Homo sapiens: one gene and its partners. The protein of the gene in region 3 interacts with the protein of the main gene of each other region in a pairwise test. Each region holds a gene or a part of one and is shown on either strand. Other genes may lie near its edges.

Region 1 (7,499 bases), on a different chromosome or scaffold from region 3:
TCCAACAATAGATGAATGGATCAAGAAAATGCAGTGTATATACACAATGGAATACTATTCAGCTATGAAAAAGAATGAAATCCTGTTATTTGCAGAAACATGGATGGAACTGGAGGACATTATGCTAAGTAAAATCAGCCAGGAAATGAAAGTTAAACACCACATGTTTTGGCTCATATGTGGGAGCTAAAAACAAATTGTTCTCATAGAAGTGAAAAGTAGAACAGATAGCAGAGGGAGGGAAGGGGAAGAGTAGGATAGGGAGAGAGTTGTTAAAGGATGCAAAATTACAATGAGATAGCAGGAATAAGCTCTAGTGTTCTATAGCACTACAGAATGACAAGAATATAGTTAACAATAATATATAGTTCCAAATAGCTAGAAGGAAGATATTGAACATTCCCAATACAACGAAATAATAAATGTATGAGATGATGAATTTGTCAGTTACCCTCATCTGATCACTATGAATTATCTGTATGGCAACAGCACTGCATGTCCCATACATATGTACAATTATCATGTCAATTTAAAACTGTTTAAAATTTAAAAATAAGGTTTATTGGAGACCTGAGGTACTTGATTATATTTACAAGGTGATTTATCATTGCTACATTGGCCATTTGTCGTTAACAAATGATATTATTTTCTATCTTACATTCCAGGAAAACAGGTATTATGAAGGACTTGCCTAAAACCCTTATTAGACTAACCCAGCAGTTCTCAAACTTTAGTGGCATCAGAATCACGTGGAGGGTTTATTGAAACACAGATATCTGAGCCCACTCCCACAATTCTTGAGTCAGTATATCTTATTGGGGAGTAGGAGGAGCAAGAATTTGAATTTCTAACAAGATGCTGGTGCTGCTGGTCCCAGGACAACACTTCAGGAACCACTGGACTAATCTTTTAGTACCACTGAAGGGATTCCCACATGCTGGCCCTGGGAATGGCACCTGTAAAATTCAGTGAGAGCTAGAAGTTTGCATCATATCAAACATCCAGATGATTGAAATATCCAGACATTAGCTGATTTTTTTTTTTTTTTTTTTTGTCCAGCACATTTTGACATAAGGTAGATCTGGTCTCAGAGTGCAGTTGCCTTCAGTGACAGCTCACACTTCGTTAGTGTTCACTGCTAAGTATACATTTAAAGGTTTGTTCTTGGTGGTCACTATAATTGTTGAAAGATAATAGTGTTGACAACAGTGAAATGGATAACGGAGTCAAATGTCACAGAGTAATAGTGAATTTTCTGTCTCTAAACATGAGAATATTTGGTTTGTCAAGCCACAGAAGCATCCATTTTCTTTCCTGAGTGCCGAATGCTGAGCTGCAGCTGTTGTTGCTATTATGGAAGTTATTGACTTAAAGAAAGATAAAAGACAAGTTGGTGTACAATTTGAAATGACTTATATTCCGCTTTTCTTTGTGTGTCTCGCTATAGCTCTTCCCTGGTGATTATCTTTCTTATTTTACTTCAGGAAAAGTGCAGAGACTGGACTACGTCAGCTAGTTATAGAAACTGGCAGATAACTCCTTTCTGGAAGACACTTAATTTTTAAATTAGGTTTTCAAACTATGTTAGTATAGTACTTAGTAAAATTTAAAAATAATACAGAAAAGTATGAAATAATTTTAAAAAGTCTCCTTATAATTCCGTCTTTGACTTCTCAGTCCTATTCTTCAGGGATAATACCTGTTAATAAGTTGACATTTATCTTTCCAAAGATATTTGTGCATTTGCATATATATATATACATACATACATGTATATGTATATGTGTATGTGATGTAAGTGTGTACCTTTTTTTATAAAAATGGGATTACATATTGATTCACATTTTTTCTCTGCACCTGGCATTTTTCATTTGGAGATCTTTTATATTAGCACATACATAGATATACCCCATTCTTCTTCACAGCTGTAATTACTCCACAGCATGGAAGTACTTGCTTGTGATTGACATTATAAACAATGATGTAATTACTATAAACAATGATGTAATTACCACCCTTGTACATATATATTTTTAGCACTTGTATATCTGTGGAATAATTCCTAGAAGTGATATTGCTGTTTCAAAACTTACATGCTTTATTAGTATGTTTTTTCACTGCTCATAAAGACATACCTGAGACTGGGTAATTATAAAGAACAAGAGGTTTAATGGACTCACCGTTTCACATGGCTGAGGAGGCCTCACAATCATGGCAGAAGGCAAAGGAGGAGCAAAGTCACTCCTTACATAGCAGCAGGCAAGAGAGCTTTTTCAGGAGAACTCCCATTTGTAAAACCATCAGATCTGTGAGACTTATTCACTACCAGGAGAACGGTATGGGGGAACTGCCCCCATGATTCAATTATCTTCACCTGGCCCCCACCCTTGACACGTGGGGATCATTACAATTAAAAGTGAGATTTGGGTGAGATTTGGGTGGGGACACAGCCAAACTATATCACATGCATTTCAAAATTTGATAGATATTACCATTTCTACCAAAGATACAGTATCAATTTCTTTCCCCTCAACAGCATATGAAAGTGCCCCTTTCCTCACATCATCACAACCACTGAGTATTATCAAACTAACTGTTCATTCTTTTCTACTCTAATAGGTGAAATATTATATCTTATTGATTTCAAATGCAATTATTTAATTATGAATGATCAGTGGTTTTTCAAATACATTTATAAGTCTGGGAAGTTATTTATTAAACACTAATTTAGATATTTTCCTGGATGCATTAATATTTTTTCAGACTCCCCCCCAAGTAAAAGAAAGTTCTAGGATGTGATGGAGCATTGAGTCCAGTGGGGCCATGCCTCTTGCCTGGCAACACTATTTGTTATAATAAAATAAGTCATGGTGGACCTATGTTCTCTATAATAGTAATGAGATGAAGGAGACAAGTGAAAAAAGGGTAGTGGGATCATGACTTAATTTCAAAGGGCCTAGATGAATGATAGCAAGTCTTCAAATGGTCAACAGAACTTCCCCAAAGAGATGACACACATTAGGCATAACAGACAGTGTTTTGATTGCAATTCCTAGACTCTAGTATTTGCGTAACACTTTATACTCAGAGCACAGACATTGGGATCTGATATCCCTGGTTCTGCCACTTCTCTGTGTGGCCTTAGCAATGTTCCTTAATCTAACTGACCTCAATTTCCTCTTCTCTAGTTAAATAAGAATTGTAACCTTAATAACTAGCTTCTAAAGTTTTTAGGACTATTAAATGAGATAATTGCTATATATAAAGTACTTTGCACAAACTTTACACATAGTGGGCCCTCAATAAAAGTTTGTTATTATTATTATGACAATTTTACCCATGACTTTATTCACATTGTATGGCTAATTTGAGACAAGAACTCCTTTCATCTGCTTCTAGGAGCCTAGGTCTTTTGCCACTCATAGAGTAAAATAGCATGATAACCAGCTCTTTGTTACTTCCCCAAACAATATGAGGTAGGATCAAAAACTCAGCTCATGCTGTAGGGAATTTTGAGTTAACTCCAAGGAGGAAATCCCCCATGAGCAAGGTTCTTAGCCCATTTTTTGCCGAGTGTTCCATTATTGGAATGCTAAGCATGTGAGAGTTATTTATATCCTGCTCAAGGTCATTGCCAAGGTCTGATTGCAAAAATTCAAAAAATTGCAACCCCAGGCATAAATGGGTTAAATTTTTCAAAAGGAGGGTTAAGGGTTCCCCATTTCTTTAAGTAGATGTTTCTCAGTTCTAGCTGTTCATTATAATCCTCTGGGAAGCTTTTAAACAATGCTTATGCTCAGGCCTCCCATACCCAGTGTTATTAGGCTGTTCTCACATTGCTATAAAGAAATACCTGAGACTGGATAATTTATAAAGAAAATAAGGTTAATTGGCTCATGGTTCTGCAGGCTGTACAGGAAGCATGGTGGCATTTGCTTCTGGGGAGGCCTCAAGAAGCTTCCAATAGCGGCAAAAGGCAAAGGGGGAGAAGGCACGTCACATGATGGGAATGGAGCAAGGGCAAGGGAGGTGCTACACACTTTTAAATGACCAAATCTTGCAAGAACTCACTCATCATCGCAAAGACAGCACCAAGCCATGAGGGATCTGGCACCATGACCCAAACACCTCCCACCAGGCCCCATTTCCAGCATTAGGGATTACAATTCAACATGAGACACTGGCAAGGATAAATATGCAAACTATATCACCCAGAGATTCTGATTTAATTGTCTGGGGTTGGGGCTGGCTTTGGTATTTTTAAAAACATGTAGTCAGACTAGAGAACCACTGCAAAGCAGAGCTGCTCAGTGGCTCATGAATGTTGGTGCAGTGGTTCTCAATCTTGGCTGCCTGATAGAATCACCAAATGAGCATTGATGTTGGGCCTTATCCACAGAGATTCTGATTTAATTGGTCTTGGGTGTAACTTAGTCATCAGGATTTCTAAAATCTCCTCTGGTAATACTAATGTGCATCCAAGGTTGAAAACCACTCTGAAAGACTCTAGATTTTGGAGCTTCATCCATAGAAATTTCCTTTTAGGTCTGGAATGGAGTCGTGGTACATTTATTTTTAATAAACACCCCAGGTGTTTGTGTTGTTTGTACATAACTGAAGTAGAGGCTAAAAAAGGGCTGTACTTAGACATCTCTTCTACAGCATCCTCCAATGTAGCTAAAATAATAGAAAACTTACAAACCGAATAAGATGGTATTATACAATGTTAGGATCCTCTATTAGCACAGTTCACTAAATGACCTGTTGAGTAACTAATCTTTGTACAACATTGCTGTTCATAATGATTAGATATTTTCTGAATTGCTCCTCAAAGATCTCTGTGATCTATGTGTTGTTCTTAACACCCTTATTTTACTACAAATGTGCTGAGGGTCAGAGAAGTTCTGGGATTTGGGTAAATTCACAATAGTTGTCGTCAGGATGCTAACCCATGATTATTTGATACCAAATTTCATGTTATTTCATTTTACTTTCCAGAGTGTATATAAAGATAGTTGGAAAAGGCACAGTTAGTTTAATAGTATACCATAAAAACTAAGGATAATTACCATTGTTGGTTATTGCATAGTAAATTCTGCAAGTATTCTGAGTGGGAAATTTTGATTGATGGTAAACCTTGAAGTAGTCAGGTAAATCTTATTTGTAAACATTTGAAGTAAGAAACCAGCAAAGGGATGAACACATTGAAATTTTGGTGAGGACTTTGCAGCTTGTTTAGGTAATTCAATGAGCTGTATCTAGTTGAATAACTACAGCCTCCATCTCTTCCCTTTTGTCAGGTGTGCCAAAGAGCCTGAATTACAGTGGTGTGAAAGAGCTTATTTTAGCAGTCGACGGGGTGCTGTCTGTGCACAGCCTGCACATCTGGTCTCTAACAATGAATCAAGTAATTCTCTCAGCTCATGTTGCTACAGGTCAGTGAGTTTTGTAAACACCCTGGAAAAAATTCAGTCCTTGTCCTGTAAAGTCAGTAATTTCCCTTCTTTTTGTAGAGCTGCCCTTATTGTCTGTTGCTTGTCAAAACATTATAAAGTGTTTTCTATTACCAAGGGCCTTTGAAACCAGCCCACTTATTGATGTTGTCATAGCAACAATGATACCCACGACATTCTTGGGGCTGACTGCAGAGGGCTGAGGACAGACAGAACAAAGGACTAAAATGCACCCGCCACTTCAAGGCCTTGGACTCTGAATATTCAACTTCATCTGTTTGGCTTGGTGCCCTATCAGTCAAATAATAGGAATGAATTAAAAACTTAATCTTAATTGAGTATCTCCTATGTATAAGATGTTTTTCCTGGCACTGAAAATAGGAAGATGAAAGAGACACCAGCCCCACTCTTAAATTTCTAACAAGCTAATGGATGTGCTAATAGGAATTATGGTGGGGTCCCACACTGTATGATTAGAAATTCTGTAGCCATGTGAGAAAATTCTTATAATACTAGGTTTATACTAAAATTACTTTTTCAAGAAGTTAATTTTGTCTCTGATATGTCCTAGAGCTGGGAGGATAGGCAGTGGGAGGGCATTTACTGCCTCAAGAGAAAGCTCAGGCCAAGGATAACACATTAGGCTGCTAAAAAATGACTCAAGGAGTTACTTAGGGGCAGGGGACAGGAACACTAGTGACAGTCATTTGAAAACTGTGCTTTCTCAGACATCGTCATCTTCTCGAAGGGGCTTAGGTCTGACTTGAGGGAATTTACAGCATTCACTATGCCAATATTTCACTGCAAATGGAAGAATCTAGTAAACACTCAGGTTGCTATGGAGGAGACTTTACAGCCTGCTGATAGCATTTGGGACAGGAAAAAAATGGCAGTGAGGGTTGCTGCTCTAAGAAAGGTCTGTGGGGAGCTCTAAACGCTTCCTGGTTCCTGTCACTATCCTTGATATAAATTCTGATTACATACAAAGCCTGCAACCCAGAGATCCCTGGGAGCTGGTGAGCAGGGCTGTATAAGAAATAATAGTTCTGTCTTGGCTTTTTCCAGGGCTTGTCTCCCCTTCCATAGTAAGCTCCTAGGAATGCCAGACTCCAGAGATAACAGTGGACAGAAAGAGTTCCCATAGCGACAGGGCACTTTGCTGCACTAGAGTTTCCCCTGCCTTGTCTGTGTGAATGTAGCTGATTATCAGAGCAAACGTGGCTTCCTCTGAGTGCCCTGCCTCTGCCCCACCCCAGCAGGTCAAAGACAAAGTACTTGAAGTTGGAGTCAGAGCAGTCGCCCATGCGTGTGCAATCAGTGCTAATCTCCCTGTGCTTCTTTATCAACAGCAGCCAGCCGGGACAGCCAAGTGGTTCGGAGAGAAATTGCTAAAGCCCTTAGCAAAAGCTTTACGATGCACTCACTCACCATTCAGATGGAATCTCCAGTTGACCAGGACCCCGACTGCCTTTTCTGTGAAGACCCCTGTGACTAGCTCAGTCACACCGTCAGTTTCCCAAATTTGACAGGCCACCTTCAAACATGCTGCTATGCAGTTTCTGCATCATAGAAAATAAGGAACCAAAGGAAGAAATTCATGTCATGGTGCAATGCACATTTTATCTATTTATTTAGTTCCATTCACCATGAAGGAAGAGGCACTGAGATCCATCAATCAATTGGATTATATACTGATCAGTAGCTGTGTTCAATTGCAGGAATGTGTATATAGATTATTCCTGAGTGGAGCCGAAGTAACAGCTGTTTGTAACTATCGGCAATACCAAATTCATCTCCCTTCCAATAATGCATCTTGAGAACACATAGGTAAATTTGAACTCAGGAAAGTCTTACTAGAAATCAGTGGAAGGGACAAATAGTCACAAAATTTTACCAAAACATTAGAAACAAAAAATAAGGAGAGCCAAGTCAGGAATAAAAGTGACTCTGTATGCTAACGCCACATTAGAACTTGGTTCTCTCACCAAGCTGTAATGTGATTTTTTTTTCTACTCTGAATTGGAAATATGTATGAATATACAGAGA
Region 2 (7,299 bases), on a different chromosome or scaffold from region 3:
AGCCTGGGCAAAAGAGCAAGACTCTGTCTAAAAAAAAAAGAAGAAGAAGAAGAAAAAGAAACAAAAGCTGGCTTCTCGGTGTTCAAAAAAAATAAAAATGAAAATTTTTAAAAGCTCAAGGTATTGCTAGACAATATGGCTCCTTGCACAGACACACTAGCACCCCTTTTCTCAAGACATTTTAGTACCATCTTCAAGAACTTTGTTGCAATAAACACACAAATTTCTAGGACATTAATAGTGACCCCCTTAGACGTGGTGCATTTGTGCAGTGCACAACCTGCACACCCTTACGCATTGGCCCATGACACCAGAGACTACATTATGAGCCTTACACTGGTCTGATTTTAATTTAAAAGCTGGAAAGGTGACAGATGGGCATCTGATGAAAGTTGTAGGTAGGGATGGAGATTACATGAACCCTCTGCTTTGTGCAGGAGGAACATCATCTCTGGATGCTCCCAGCTATTGATCCCCGTTTACTCCTAAAATGGATGGAATAATTTCAGGACTGCATTTAAGGGGAGCTAAAAACTTAGGGACCTCAGTGCCTCCTTTCATCACCCGTCATTGTGTTCCCCCAGCAAGGGCAGGCAGTGGAGGTTTGAGTGAGACTTTTGCACTCTCTGCGCTGCCTTGATCCTTGGCTTCACTCTAGGGAATGCCTACATCAAAGGGTCCCCTCCAAGTGTCGTTCTGGGAGTTTTGGCTCTCGTCTGGTACCTTTTTATCTGACTGTTTACCAAACCAAAGAACTCAGTAGGCTCAGAACTCACTGCAAAGGAACATTCTGTTCCAGACTTGCAGTCCTTGCCACTCTCTTCGTGGGGGGGTGAGGGGACAGAAAAGCATGAGAATGTCTTGTAGAAGTCCTCAGTGAGGGCACTGCCCAATTACATAATCTTGAGGTGCCAATTATTTATAACATTAAACTGCCTATGCGTAGATCAATATCAAGCAGCAATCAAATGAAACAGTGTTATAATTTCTGATTAAAACAACACAAATTTAGAAATACCAACAAATGCAAGGTATTGTAGAAAAAATATGAAAATTGTGTTTTATCCATAGTTGCATTCTCCTTTCTCCATTTTGTCACCTAGTTCTTATGTCCTCTTACGTATATTTGATGAACTGCCTCAAAATCTTTCTGGAAAGAGAGGTCCATTAGGAATGGAGAGAGCTATTGGATCCTGACTTCATCATCCGGTACCTTCCGGCCCAGATGGGACTGTGCATCGTAAGATATATTCTAAAAAATAAGACAGTACCAGAACTGTTGCAGAGCTAGGCGGCATGATTTCATGGCCAGTGAGGAATAGAGATGTAAACTGCTTTAAGTGCACAGAAGCCCACTGCGAAATCCAAATAGATTTGGGCAGAGTATGAGGAGGGGGAGGAGAGAGAAAACATTCTAGGGGCAGAAACTCCAAGAAGAAAGTCGAAGAGGAGAGCAGCTTTATGTAGGTTCATTTGTGATTGTTCCAGGCAGAGAGATGGAAGGTGCATTCACTTGGTATGGGAACAGAGAGGGGCACCCAAAGAGGAGATGCAAGGGAAAGACCAAGGAAAGGCAATGTTAGGGCATACTCAGCAAATGACTCTCTGGAAATAATAAAGGAGCTACTGTAGAAAGAACAGAGAAAAGTTCATTGTATTGTGCAATTAGGCTGTTAAAAGCACCGAGAACACATGTATGCACGCAATGAGTGCCCAGTTGTCTACAGCAACAGGGTGGCAGCGGACCCTGGCATCTCAGAATCCTGCAGTATGAGAATTTGGCAAGCCCTGCATCAGAAAGCTACCTAGTTCACAGTTCTTGAATGAAGCAAATGGTTTCCTCTGTACTCATAACTGCACCCCTTCTGATGTCAAAGCAGGGAGAAGTTTGTCCCCTTATTCAAGCCAGGAGGAAGGTTCCATTTGGAAACCCCCAAGGTAAACCAGTGCTGATTGAGAGGGGCTGACATCAGAATGGGGGCACCTCTACATGTTCGGCACGGTGCTTTGAAGATGTCATCCCTCATCACAACTTTATAAAGGAAGAAAAGTTACCCCACTTTACACTGAGGAATCTGAGGCTCAGAAACTGTGAGTAACATGCCTAAGGTCATACAGCTTGTCAGAGAAAAGCTAGTATTCAAACTCAGGTTTATCTGACTTGGAATTCCATGTGCCTTGTGCTGCCTTGTGCATACAATATGGCAAGGCTGTAATTTGTGGCCCCCCACTTAAGGTGTGGCTTTACAGGGACCAGGAGAAAGGCCAGGGAGGGAGGGTGGGTACAGAAAGAGGTGGTTTTTCCAAGGAGGTCTGAGATTCACTACACACCTTCAGCCCTGACCAGTGCGACTGAGGCAGAAGGCTCCATGGGTGTCATGTGGAGGCAGCTTCAGGATGAGGTCCATAAATATGCATCATGGCCAAGTTGAGTGAAGGAATTAATGAAAAGCAAACATACAGGCAGAAGTTGGAAATATTGGACAGCACTGGAGTGGCTAAAAGTACAAACTTTGAGTCAGACTTTGAGCAAGTTATTTAAACTCTGAGCCTCAGATTGCTCATCTACAAAATGGGGACAATAGTATAATATAGGAATTTTGCAAATGCTCTACCATTTGTGGCAGTTATTATTCTCATTACCATCATTAGCATGATTATTTCTATCAGGGACAGTGGTCCATTTGCATAAGGAAGTCATGGAGACACTAGTATGATTCCTTTCATTCCCAAAGCAGGCCACTCACACTGTCTCCTGAAGATTCATTTTTCTCCTTCAGGGAAACCCGAGGAGCTTATTTTCTCCTTATTTTACCAGGGAAAAAATGTTGGAAGGAGATTTGCCTGAACCTGGAAACTCTTATTATGAACCTAGACCTATACACACCCTACCTCAGCTGCTCGGGAGGCACTTGGAGGAAGGATGTCCCAAGCCGGCAAGAACCCTGTGGTCTGGCGGGTGTCCAGCGGGTGGAGCCAGAGAGCTCCCAGCCATGGGCCACCTAGCTGAAGGCTGATAAGTACTATCTGCACATCCAAGCAGGCAGGAGACCCAGATAAAAGACCTATGACATCTGCATGGCTGGCTGTGGGATTACATATATATATTATATATATATTTAAAAGTATATGTATATATGTATATATATTACATATATACACACATATATATCTACACATATGTAATATATGTATATATGTATATTTATTATATGTATATATCTACATATATACATGTATGTATGTAATATAGATGTATATATGTTACATATATACACACATATACATATATACACATATATTTTTTTAAAATTCTGCACTCATAAAAGTAGATTTGAGTTAGATTTTTGCCATAACAGAACAAGCCACAAAATTGAAATTTAAAAAGAAGGGGGAAGGAGGAGATATTTTAATTCAGTTTTAGATTTCCCTGCTATAGAATGTTTGCTTCCTGACTTTTAAAGAGGCAGCAGAGTATGTCCAAGAATTCTCACCTGGGAAGACAGACATTCCAGGGAAACACTGATATTTTTGTTTTCTCCTCACTGGGAAAAAGGCAGCTGGCCTTCAGAAAACAACTTGCATGTACCTTATCTTCCCCACCCTCCCAACAGCCCCTCAGGCCCTTGCTGGAGTCTTACATCTGTGTAGAAGTTGTGCCAAGTCTAAGAAAATTTCACCCCAGGAGCAGTCGCTTAGCTTCCGAGTCCACACAGCAGCAACCTGCCCCATGGTTTTTAGTTTGACACCGTGTTGATCCTTTTCAGTTGTAAATCTTTCCAAAAATATGAGTAGGGGCCAGAGGAAACAGGAGAAGAAAAAGATGCATTTTGGTAGGATTATTGCTGGTCAAAGACCTTGGAATGCTGTGGAAACTGTGGCAAAGCAGTTGGTACTCTGTCAAGAACAGAGAGAGAGACATCGGGTACTGAAGCCAGGGGACCAGTTCCTTGGTGTTGCTTTGGCATTGATGCCTGAAGTGGGAGGAGAAAGCCGAGCCCACAAACACACAGAGCAGAGTGGGGCTCTGAGTATATAACTGTTAGGTGCCTCCCTCCAGCACCATCTCCTGAGAAGCACTCTCCCTTGTCGTGGAGGTGGGCAAATCTTTATCAGCCACTGCCTTCTGCTGCCAGGAAGCCAGCTAGAGTGGTGTAAGTACTCATCCTTATTTCTATTCATTTCCAACTATTCATCATTTGGGGCTTGTCTTCACAGTTCTAAGTTTTGCTCTTTTTCTTAATGAAGAAAATGTTTTATATCACCGGAATTGATCAGAAGTAGCAAAATCAGAGTTCTGGTAGACTAGAAAGCAATTTACCAAAGCCACAGGCTTCTTCCTGGAAGCTCAAAGGCATGCCTTTATTCGTGATTTCTGAAGCAAGGTGCATGCAGCACCTGAGCTGATGTGGAAGAGGGTTTGCAGGGAGGTGTCCACCCAATGTGCTCAATGATTCTGGGTTAATCAACACTATTAGGAGTTTCAGGTTGTGTTCTTGAAATAATAATTTGGGCTGTGTTCTTGAAATAAGTTCGAGGCGAGTGTCTACAAGACTCAAAAGAAAAAAGTGGGCCACTGGGAATGGCCCTTTCCAGTGATGGATTTATGGACTCCTCTGTGTGTGCTGTCATGCTGAAGGGAATGTTCTTGTGCACCCATCGGGAGAACAAGTCAGTCACAACTGAAGCCACGAATTTGGCAGCTTCCTTGCAGCTGCACTCTCTGGAGTCTGGAATCAAGACTTCTGGGAGTAGTGTTTTCCAAGGAGGGAAGTGTTTTAACCAGGACACAGGAATATCTGACAGCATTTTCTTTGTTTCCAATTACAGCTTTAAAGAAAACTGGGCATCTCCTGCTACTTAAAATCAAAAACTACCTAAAATAAAGATTATAGTAAGTACCAAATAAGTGTCAATGCTGAAAGTCTCTTTATTATGCTAGACCATGAGTGTTTAAATGCTTTCTTCTATATCCATATCCAACACTTCATATTATTTTTAAAAGTAATAGCTGAAGCATGGAAAATTGAAGACTTCAGGTCTCTCCAATTGCACAAATTTCTAATACATGCTGGCAATAGAATATATTTTATTTCGTGTAATAAAATAGAGGATATTAGTTGACCTGAAATCTTGATATTGCCTTGTATTAAAATGCTAAGCACTGCTTCATTTTACTAGTGATCTGGGGTATGAAAAGTGCTTTTTGACTTCTGCTGGAAAGCTCTTCAGGTGCAGCTTCCAGGATATTCTTGGGATGTTAACTTCAGCACACATAAGCCTTGCTGTAGATGTGTCAGCTTTGAGGCACAGGGAGACATTTGTTTGTCAGAGAGTAACTGCTTCTGGCAAGGGCATAGGGTGAAACTGGGGATAGCAGAGCTCTTTCTTTGTGGTTGTTCAACCCCCACCCCAAGATTAGTTCAAAGTGACCGTGAAGATAGTCTGTGCCCACCGCATCGCTAAGTCCTAGCCCTCTCTGCATACTCCAGCACACAGAAACTGCTGCTTCACTTGTTTGTTGACTTGAACCGAACCTTGGGTGGCATTAATGTGCCTGGCCCAAGACTGAAAAATTAAGAACCACCAGAGCTGACCTATTCCATAAGACCCAGTCTGCCTGCCACGTACTGAGTGAATCTGGATGATGCCCACTCTGATCCTTGGTTTTCTCTTCTATAAAATGAAGGCTTGAACTACGTGGTCTCTAAAATCCTACCTAGCTCTCAAATTTCTCTTGGTTCTAGGAAAATATTGATGTTGAGCTCAAGGAAGGGGTTCTCCAAGGTGTGTGATTTTGGTGGTAGAGGAAAGGCCGGTGCCAGGCAGGGGCAGAAGGAGACGCTGTCTACACTGAGAAAATGTGACAACCCCTGCTTGTCTCTTTTTTCATTCTTCATTGTTTCTTATTTCTTTGTTTTTAGCTTTATATAACATGAGAGCCCTACCACTGGGTTTCTTAACCATTTGTTCTTTATCAAATAAAAATATTCATAATGCAACATGCAGGCACATCAGTGTGGTACAGAACTAGCCAGCTAGTTTACTATAGGTAAATATACACACATGCATGCACACACACAATTTTTACCTGAGACATGTCAGAAGTGTTTCCTAAAATTGTGGATTTTTCTGAGTCATTCTGGTAAAGGGTAGGTTTTCAGGTTTTAGGCCAAGCCAGAAGAAGAAAGTAAAAACAGAATAAACAACAGGGGGAGAAAAAGAGAAATACCACACACACAACTGGAACTTCTGGTAAAAGAGTGATATTCTTGGATGCAATGGAAGTTTTAAAAAGGAAAAAGAAAATTTATAAAAAGCTGCCACATTTGTGGAATTCAACTAAAAACTGTTTATTATTAACAAAGTGATGTTCAAAATTTAAGAGTTCTTGGCCTGGCATGATGACTTATGCCTGTAATCCCAGTGTTTTGGGAGGCTAAGGTGGGAGGATCACTTGAGGCCAGGAATTCAAAACCAGCCTGGACAATACAATGAGACTTTGTCTCTAAAAAAAAATAAAATAAATTAAAATAAACACAGCTGGATGTGGTGGCACAGGAAAAAAAAATACCATTTAGGAGTCTCTTAAAGGCAGCTTGTGAATGCTTACAAAGCGTGGCTAGTATCTTATTACAGAAAACAGAGCCCACATCATGCATCCTTCTTCTCACATTTCATAAACAAGGCCAAGGGAAACTGCTGTGGGGCAACCTGTTGCTTTGGTGTTGGTCCCCAAGATGCAGCCCTCACAATCTGCCCCCAAACGTGTCAGAACATGAACCCCCTCCTCCCCCTCTGGAAGAAGCAACCTCAGATCCAACAGCAGAGACACGCAGCAGAACAAAATCTGGGCATTGGTCCCTGTGTAGGATGGCTTCCCGTTATTTTTTTTTTAAGCAAAGTAAATGAACATCAAATTTCCATAGTCAGCTGCTGTCTTTCTGCCCACTGAGAGCTCTTTGGTGAAGGCAAAGTCCTCCTTCTTCATTAGCGGTCTCCCATGTGGGGCCACATCTTCCCTCACCAGGAACCCAGTGGGCGCGCTCCAGCCCCCCTCAGCTTGCCTTTTGCGTGGTCATTAGAGCTAGGGCACACGTCATGCTGATTCACATATTTTTGCCCTTTGTCATGTATTGAGAAAAAGTAAGGATGAATGGACGGTCTTTGATTGGCGGCGCTGGTGACGCCCGTCATGGTCCTGTTTGGAAGGACCCTTTTGGAACTAAAGCTGGTGACGCAGCGCGCAGAGGCATCGCCCGGCTAAGCTTGGCCCTGGCAGATGGGTCGCAGGAACAG
Region 3 (8,489 bases):
TGAGTATCGTGTGGCTTTGTGCCCAGCAGAAGAGGATTAAGGTTGCCAAATCTTTGGATAATAACAGGCTCCAATCTACATAACACCTGGTCTTTACAAACCAAGTCATTATGAATGTGATCCAAGTTGTCACTCCAGGGGTTTTATTATTTCCACATTAGTCGGTGTTGTGTCTTAGATATATGGAGGTTGCCGGCTTGTTTAGTGTGGATTGAATGACTGCTTCTCCTTTCTTTGCTCTGGTTTGGTAACGTTAGATAGCAGTGGGGAAGAAGGGATCATTGTACTATAGATCTCTTGGTCAGTCAATATTATTGGAGATGAGCAGCAAAACAATGAACCCAGATAATGCTGGGCATTAGAGTGGGTGGTACAGACTTCTAGGACAGGGATCAGAAGCAAGGGTCCCAGAACTGACTGGATGGGGCTGATCACTGTCCAGCCTCTCCACAATGCTGCTATATGACAAGAAGACAGAGCCAAGATCCTTCCAAATATTCATCAAACCATCTGGTTCTCTCTCCATTAAGCCACTTCCATCTCTTCCCTGGACACTGGCATCCCTGTTACACTCTTGCCATTTTCTTGGTTGCGGCACAGCATCAAGTGATCTTTTTAAAGTCTAAATTAGATGATATTGTTCAAAGAGATAAAACCACCCATTGGTCACAAGCACCTGCCCCTCTGCCCCTGCCTGCCTTTCCTATCCCACTGCACTGCAGTTTTTCCAGGCTTACTCATCTCCGGCTACCTTGGCCCCCGATGGGTTCTTCATGTGCCAACCTCTTCCAGCCATAGGCTCTTTGGCCATGTATCCTTCTTCTTCCCCTTTCTTGGCTGATGCCTGCTTATATGAGATGCAGTGTATCTTGGTGATTAAAAATGCACACACTAGTGCCAGACTGCCTGGCCAAATCCTAGCTTTTCTACTTATCAGCTGTGTGACTTTGAATAAGTTGCGTAAACTCTGTATGCCTCCACTGTAAAATGGAGTTGAAAATAGTGTCCACATCTTGGGGTAGTTATGAGGATTAAATTATATATATATATATATAACATTTAGCCTGTTGCCTAATATCTAGAAAAATCTTCATAAATGTTACCTCTCATTCATGATTGGGTCTCAGCCTAAATGTCATTTCCTCTGAGAGCTCTTGCCTGGTTCTGACCTTCCTTTCTACCCCTGCTCCATTGCATTCCTTTTTTATTGCAGGACTCTTTTCCTTTTCTTTCATATTATATATTTAGGATCATTTGCATACCTGTTTATTGTCACTGCATTAGACTATAAATGCCATGAGGGCAGGGACTCTGTATCACTGAATAACCAATACCTAGTGCAGTGCCAGGCACATAGTAGACACTAATCAAATATGTTGCTGAGTGAATGACTGAAGCTGATGGTTCAGGACTTCGTTTGTGAGTGTTGAGCGTCTGCTGGGAAAGCATTGGTGCCTCAGAGGGACTGAACTGGGCCAGAAGCCAGTGGAGTTCCACTACACTACTTTTCAATACATTATCTTTACATTGTATTTTAAGATGTTGACACATCAAAATCAAATTACTGGACCAAGCTCAAAAGTTACATTTATATGCCAGGATTAAATGTTCTTTTTTGGCAGAAAAAATGTTCAGATTTGCCACAGAATCTCTTCCAACCTGGAACTGGCCTGAATGAATTGTGTAAATGAGACAATCATGGTTCTTTTTCTCTTCCCCCTTTCCTCCTATTTTGTCCCCCAGAGTGACTGAATATTTGACTCAATTCGCTGCTTCAGTGGATGGGCCATTGTAGACCTGGGCAGCAACTCCCTGGGTGGCAAGTCCAAGATACTGGCTTATGTTTGCATTTATCACTTGTGTTTTAGATTGGGCTTCTTTATCTATGTGCCTTCTTTAGCTCTTCCTTGTTTAATGCCACTGATTGTTTATTTCATTTCCATAGCACTTTCCCATCCAAGCTTGTTAGACTATATGGAGAACATCATGTTCAGAAAAAGCAGTGGCAAACACACACGACAACAACAAAAATGTAAATTTACACTCTGCCTGTACTTGGCTAGCATAGGGTTACTTTTCTCCGTGATTCCTTAATGGGAAGACTCATTAGGTCTTCCCAATGGAGACCTAATCTCAACAGACTTTCTCCTTCTATCCCCTCTCTTCTGCCATTGTATTTTTGTTTTGTTCATTCTCATTGGAAGTCTGGTGGTGATTGGGGCCTTTGGCATCTGTGTGTGCAGGATTATGGGAATTTCTAATCTCAAGCTTATTTTCCAACCCTGGCACATTCAACTATTTCTTACACATAATGATGCCACCTTTGTTTTTTTTTAATCAAGCCTACCTTCTTCCAAATCCTTTCTTTGTTCACTTATTTTTAAAAATTTCTGTTCCTGCTCTTACGGTCTTCATTACTAATATTCCTTTCCCTGCCTAGGTTATCCTTTTAATGTTTCTAACCTAATCTAGATTTTGAGAGCAGTGTTTTTATTAAGAACCAAAGCTAACTATGTTGGCAAGAAACTCATATTATGAGTAAAATATACATTTAAAATATAAATTGGGAATTTGAGCTAGAAATGGAAAGAGAAAGTTAGAATGAGTCTTGTGCTTGCATTCTCCGTCTACAAAATTTGTATGTAATCACACAGATAAAGTTCAGACATCTTATACTCTTTGACTATACTGAAATATATGTTGTCAGCAGTGCCTTAATGAAAAGTGATTGTTCTCTAAAGGAATCAAATGTAACAAGTTTAACATTCATGGTTCTTTATTTTTCAAAAATAATTTAGATTTCATTCTCCTTTTTTATTTTAAGAAGCCCAACAGAATTACCATATGACTATAATCTCATATCCTAGATTCAAAAACCAGGAGACCAAACACAAACAATGCCTCAGAGGAGAAAAGTTGTGTCTTAAGAATCAAAGTATTCTTGGGTATCGTAAGTGATTGCTGACGTAGAGCAAAGGGTTAATGAGAATGGGCTGGCATATTAAATCAGAATGCACGTTGAAAGCAAATTGCCAGCCTAAAGGAAAATATACGTATCATTGTCTCTGGTGAGGGAGGGGGACAAATAACTACTAAGATGTCCATACATGCCATACTCAGAAGTCATCCTTGATATCTTTTTTTCCAGACAGATTGCAAACACAAGTCTTTCTCCCATATGGGGGTGTGTGTGCAGGGGGTGTGGCCTGAAAATGCAGCATTGATTCTGGGAAAACTGAAACCTGGGAAGCCTGGGTATAATAGTTCAAGAAAACAGAAATGTTTTTCTTTGGCTGTTGTTCCTGAAGTTACTTAAATGAGACTCATTGGCTATTGATCTGTATATATTGAGATTACAATAAAACATAATGGACCAGTTTCTCTCTCCCCTGGGTCACAGGATTGGCCTTTTATCTCTTGAGAGTAATAAATCATGGTCTTGGATTTAAGAAAATATTCTGGGATCTGGTTGGCAGCTGATTTATTTTTAAGACAGTGATGTCAGGAAAAAAAAAAAGCATAACCCAGAATGTGACTGTAGTGGGAGAATAGCGATTGCTGTTTAAAATATTAAGTAAGGCTTCCCTGCTTTCAGAACCCATCATCCCACAGCAAGCTGAGTTGAAGCCCCTTACCAATATATTCACATCTTTCTTTACAATGGCACTTACATTCTTTTGATTTCTTTTTATCTGTGACAGATCCTAGCTTCTCTATTTATCTCTTGAATCTAATTTGCTCTATGACATCAAGCTTTAATTTTATCATTATTATTTTGCTTCATTTTAAGCACCCATGGTGTGCCAGGCATTGGATAAAATAGAAAAGATACAATCCCTGCTGTCGCTGGGCTCACACATTTAAAGAGATTTGACAGGCAAAATATCCTGTAATTGGCAATAGGTAGTCCTCATGCTTCCCCCCGCCCCTTCTCCCTTTTGAAGCAACTTCATCTCTCTGAACAAGCTTAAGAAGTTCCCTAGATCAAAGGTGTCAAAAACCAGAAGGGTTTGGAACAAGTGTCAGAGAGTAAGCAAACGACTTTCTGAGCTGTGACTCTGCTCCTCGACTGCCCACGTGCTCTCCGCTGTCTGCACTCCTGCCTCACCTGGGCTGACTCGGACTCTCCACCTCCTTTGCTGCTTCCGGCATGAGCTACCCAGGAGCCTAAGGCGCTCCTTCCCGCAACTCCGGTCCCCGCGCCCCGGGACTGCAAATCCTTTAAACAGAGGCCCCAGAGCTAGGGGTTTTCCCAGGCTCTGGTGGGCGTGGGCTGACAGTCGCTGGGAGCCCCGCAACAGGGGGGATGTCCAGGCAGGTATGCACCCAGCTCCCGGCGTTTCCCGGAGTCACCACAATGTTTCCCTTTCTCTCTCCCCCACGTATGCTGCTAGGGGTACTCCCCAGATAGGATTTTCTTTGTCTTTTCTCCTAGTAACACCGAAGCCCTCTCGTGCCCGGGGACTGCAGAGGAACGCCAGACCATCCGGACCTTGCGGGATGGCTCGGTGTGTGTGTTTTACTGTGTGTCGGAGTGTCGCGCATGTGTGCGTGTTGGGGCGCGTTATCAACAGGGGCCTAGGGCACCCCCACTCTTTCTTGCTCTCTTCCCCCATCACTTCATGGACCTCCGAGGCGCAAAGCGCTCGACCCTCTCCTGGGCTCAGTGGCTTGGGTACTCCGGGCTGAGCTCAGCTGGGGAGTCCCCTTACCCAGCCCGCACCGGCACCCCGAAGCTTCAAAGTTGCGGCAAACAGTTGCGGGGAGCAGAGGAACTGAGGTCCAGGCCAGCGCGCCCGCGGTCGCTCGCCTTGGGGAGCAGGCTGAGCCGAGGGTCGTGCGGGTGCGCGGCAGAGGCGGTAGGAGGCGGAGGAGAGGGGGGAGAAAGAGGGGGCGGTGGGGAACAGCTGCCGGGGTAGGCGAGGCGCAAGGTGGCTCCCCGCGGCCCCGCGCCCCGCGGCTCTCGGACGCACCAGGCAGCCAATGGCTGCGCAGAGGTGTACAGCAGATGGCGTCTGACTGCGCCGTTCCTTCCTCCTCCTCCTCCTCCTCCTTCTCTTCCTCCTCCTCCTTCTCTTCCTCCTCCTCCTCCTTCAGTGCTGAGGAGCCAGAGTCGCCGCCGGGTTGCCAGACGCTGGAATGGGTGGTCTTCCGACACACACCACCATCTTTCTTGCGCTCGGGAAGCTCGGGGCTCAGCGGCTCCCAGAGGTTACGGCGGCGGCTCTGGCGAGACGGGTGAGTGCAAGCACGCGGAGCCCCGAGTCGGGGATGCCGGGCCCCCTGGCCGGCCGACTGGGGCGCGGGGTGGCAGCGCCGGGGAAGGGGGCGCGCTGCCGGCGCAGACTTTGCTCTTTCCTCGCCGGACAGCCATCGTCGCCCCTTCTCCCAGCCAGACGCGGGAACTTGGAAGCGGATCTTCTCGGACGCCTCTGGCTTGGGGCTGCGGGAAGCGTGGGCTGCCCGGGGCGCAGTGTGCGGAGACCCTCTAGGCGGGCGGGGACGCCCCACGCGGCGACCTGAGCACCGACCTCATGCAACGGGACCGAACCTTGGGACCCGGGCAGCAGGAGCTCTGTTCCCTTCACCTCCAGCTTGGTTTGAGGGATACTGATGAAGGAAACCGGGGGTTTCCCGTCCTGCGCGGAGAGCCTCGGCGCCCAAAATCGAAAGGCCGGGAGTTGTTCTGCAGGCTTTGCAAACAGGTTGACTGAGGGTTTCCTTTCCCGTAGCGCTGACTGCGAAATCTGTGCATAGGCGTTCAGTGCCAGTGGAGGATAGCTGAGCAAGCCAAGAAGTTTTGCAGCTTCCTCTGATTTATCGGTGGAGTGTCAGGAGGCTGTAGCAACAGTTTACATTTCCCCTGTCCCTGCGAGTGGCTAGGGGCAAGCTGGGCTCGGACGTGATATCCTGCTGTTTGTGGAGAGGAAACTGGGAACGGGGCTTGAGAGTGAGGGGCAGGGAGGGGGGGACAGGCATATTTTCTACTGCATCGCCCATCTGCACCTGTCCCCTTTGCTGTCTTACATGTCCCATAGTATTAAAGTTATTTGAATAAGCAAATGAACCCCGCTCTTTGGTGACCGCGTATTTTGAAGTTGGAAAACTTTGCAGGGGACGAGGGAATGTTGAGGAGGGGGCGTTAAGCTCTCTCACTCTATCCCTTTTTAAAGACAAGAAAAAAACTTTCGTTGGCGAAGGTGGTACTTTTTTCTTTTGGAATGTCTGAGCTCAGAGCTTCCCATAAGAGGTATTGCGATTCAATACTGTACAGTCAAGGTGAAGTTCCACTAAGATTATGGGACCGTGGCATATTCTACGGAAGATACCAGGGTTCCTTGGCGCTCTGTTCATTGCCAGGGTGGTCTGCTGAAAGCCGGCAGTTTCCCACCCTCAGACTCCTTGGAGCTCTTTAAATGACGGTCTGCCTGGTGTTTCTCAGCGGTACACCTGTGAGTGCTCTGTTATCATGGAAATGGTAACCCATGCAGGTAGGGCTCATGCCAACCAGACTGTGGTGGGGTGTGTGTGTGTTTGTGTGTGTGTGTATACATGCGCGTGCGTGTGAACGTGTGTGTTTGGAGTTTCCTTTTGACAGGTAATCTTTGGATGTCAAAGGGATACAGTTATTTGTCTGGCAGTGTCAGGGCAATCTGAGTTTCTCGAGTAACTAGGAGGAGGTAATCTCCAGGGAAGCCTTTTTGTGCTCTTGACTGTCTACTCAGCAGTTGGTGAAGGCTTCCTGAAAGCCACTTAGGGTGTTACTAACCAAATCAAGAAGTCTTACTCAGTGGTGAGTGAAAGCTCGTGTCTTTGTGGGTTAAAAGCTGTTTATAAAGTTTCTGTCTTGAGGCTTCACTTTGACAGACTGCTGTTTTTAAACCTTAGTGCCATTAATAATAGGAGTCTTCTTTTGAAAAGTAATGTGGCCAGTTCTCTGTTTTCTGAGGGTAGTTGATCTAATCTGGTAGATTCCCTGGAATTGTTTTATTTTCTATCCCTGGGAAGTGTGTGTGTGTGTGTGTGTGTGTTGTGTGTATTTGTGTGTGTGTGTTTTCTTCATCTACCTGCTGAGAGTTGAGGGTTAGAAACTCTTTTTCATGCAAATTTAAGTGAAAAAAATTATGAAGAAAATTCTTCTGACACTGTAACAATATACACAGATACTTCTGAAAAAATTGTAGGTGTCATTGTTGACTTTAAAAACATCGGATAGTCTCGTATAAATCAGCACAGACAGATCCAGCAGCCCTGAACACCTACAAACCATTCAGGGTTTTGGATATTCTAGATTAATCTGTGATAAGGGCTTGGAGATACGTGGTCCAGGAAAGGGCTGTCTACTGTTGGTGGACTTTGATAGTCTGTTTTGAGGGTTCATAATACGATGAGCTCACTTTATGTCAACCTTAATATTTAAATCAATACTTGAGAAATGATCTTACAATATTTCTTAATCTTCTGGCCCATTGTTTTCCATCAAAGTTGTTGATTGTTAGAGAGTTGAAAGGCTAAGAAAGAGGAACACTGTTAGACAGGTAGAAAATAATTACCGATCATATAAACAATGTAAATACAGACTCTACTGTTTGAAGACTGACATTAACAAATTGGTAACGAGAGGTACCTTTCTGTTCTCTGCTGAGTGTGCCTTTTGAGAGAAAGTAGGGAAGGAATGAAAGGAAAATGGTACTAAATTGTACTTCATCAGAAGGGCTATGAAGGACCTTGTCTGCTTGCTACAGATCCTATTTCTGAAGGAATAACTCTTTTGTTAATATCAGCAAAAAGAATGTTGTCCTTAAATGATAGACCGAAAAAGCAGAATAAAAAGATAGGCTCTAAGTTAAAGGAGGGAGAATGTCCAAACAAGAACAATTCTAAAGCATGTCAACTCACTTTAATTATACTTCACAAATTGAAACTGGAGTTGTATGATTCCTTTAAAGAAAAAAAGTCTTGCCAAAACTTCAATTCTGCTGTTCTGCACACTTTACAAAGATTAGGCATTAAAGTAATAACATTATGTCAAAAGTTTGAATAGAATGATGAAGAATATTTGACTGGTCTTATTTAGTTAACTGTGAAAATGACAAATGATACAATATATTAAATACATGATTAAGACAAACAGATTAAAGAATTCTAAGTAGTGACAACTATATTAGTTGATGGGAAAAAAAGAATAGCACTATTAAGGCTTCAGAGATGCTCTACAGACAAAGCATAAAGGCTGGGTCTTTGAATAACTATTGGGTATTGTATTATCAAAAACTACATGAGTTACTTAGATATGCTGTTGGATTTTTGAATATGGATTGCACATAAGTGCTTCATATTTTCAAAAGAAAATGTTTCCCAGTATATAACTATAAAAGAAGCTGCTTCATTAACTTTAACACCAGGCAGCTTCCTAAATATAACACAGGTCCTTAATTTAGAGCTGTTAACAAGATTAATATCTAAGTGATAATTAGCACGTTAAACCT

What was found. Proteins that work in one complex are often made in the same cells at the same time.
Region 1: the proteins of THSD7B (region 3) and SLC30A8 interact in binary tests that used the Homo sapiens proteins (3 or more experiments, as listed by UniProt).
Region 2: the proteins of THSD7B (region 3) and SLC14A1 interact in binary tests that used the Homo sapiens proteins (3 or more experiments, as listed by UniProt).

What each region holds. Positions count from the first base shown.
Region 1 is NC_000008.11:117,165,734-117,173,232, forward strand, and holds part of SLC30A8 (proton-coupled zinc antiporter SLC30A8), read left to right. Parts: intron 1-5,300; coding exon 5,301-5,435; intron 5,436-6,802; coding exon 6,803-6,948; 3' UTR 6,949-7,499. UniProt on the Homo sapiens protein: Proton-coupled zinc ion antiporter mediating the entry of zinc into the lumen of pancreatic beta cell secretory granules, thereby regulating insulin secretion.
Region 2 is NC_000018.10:45,720,120-45,727,418, forward strand, and holds the start of SLC14A1 (urea transporter 1), read left to right. Parts: upstream 1-4,061; 5' UTR 4,062-4,154; intron 4,155-4,830; 5' UTR 4,831-4,894; intron 4,895-6,833; exon of another isoform or gene 6,834-7,152; coding exon of another isoform or gene 7,153-7,299. UniProt on the Homo sapiens protein: Mediates the transport of urea driven by a concentration gradient across the cell membrane of erythrocytes.
Region 3 is NC_000002.12:136,760,450-136,768,938, forward strand, and holds the start of THSD7B (thrombospondin type-1 domain-containing protein 7B precursor), read left to right. Parts: upstream 1-5,095; 5' UTR 5,096-5,238; intron 5,239-8,489.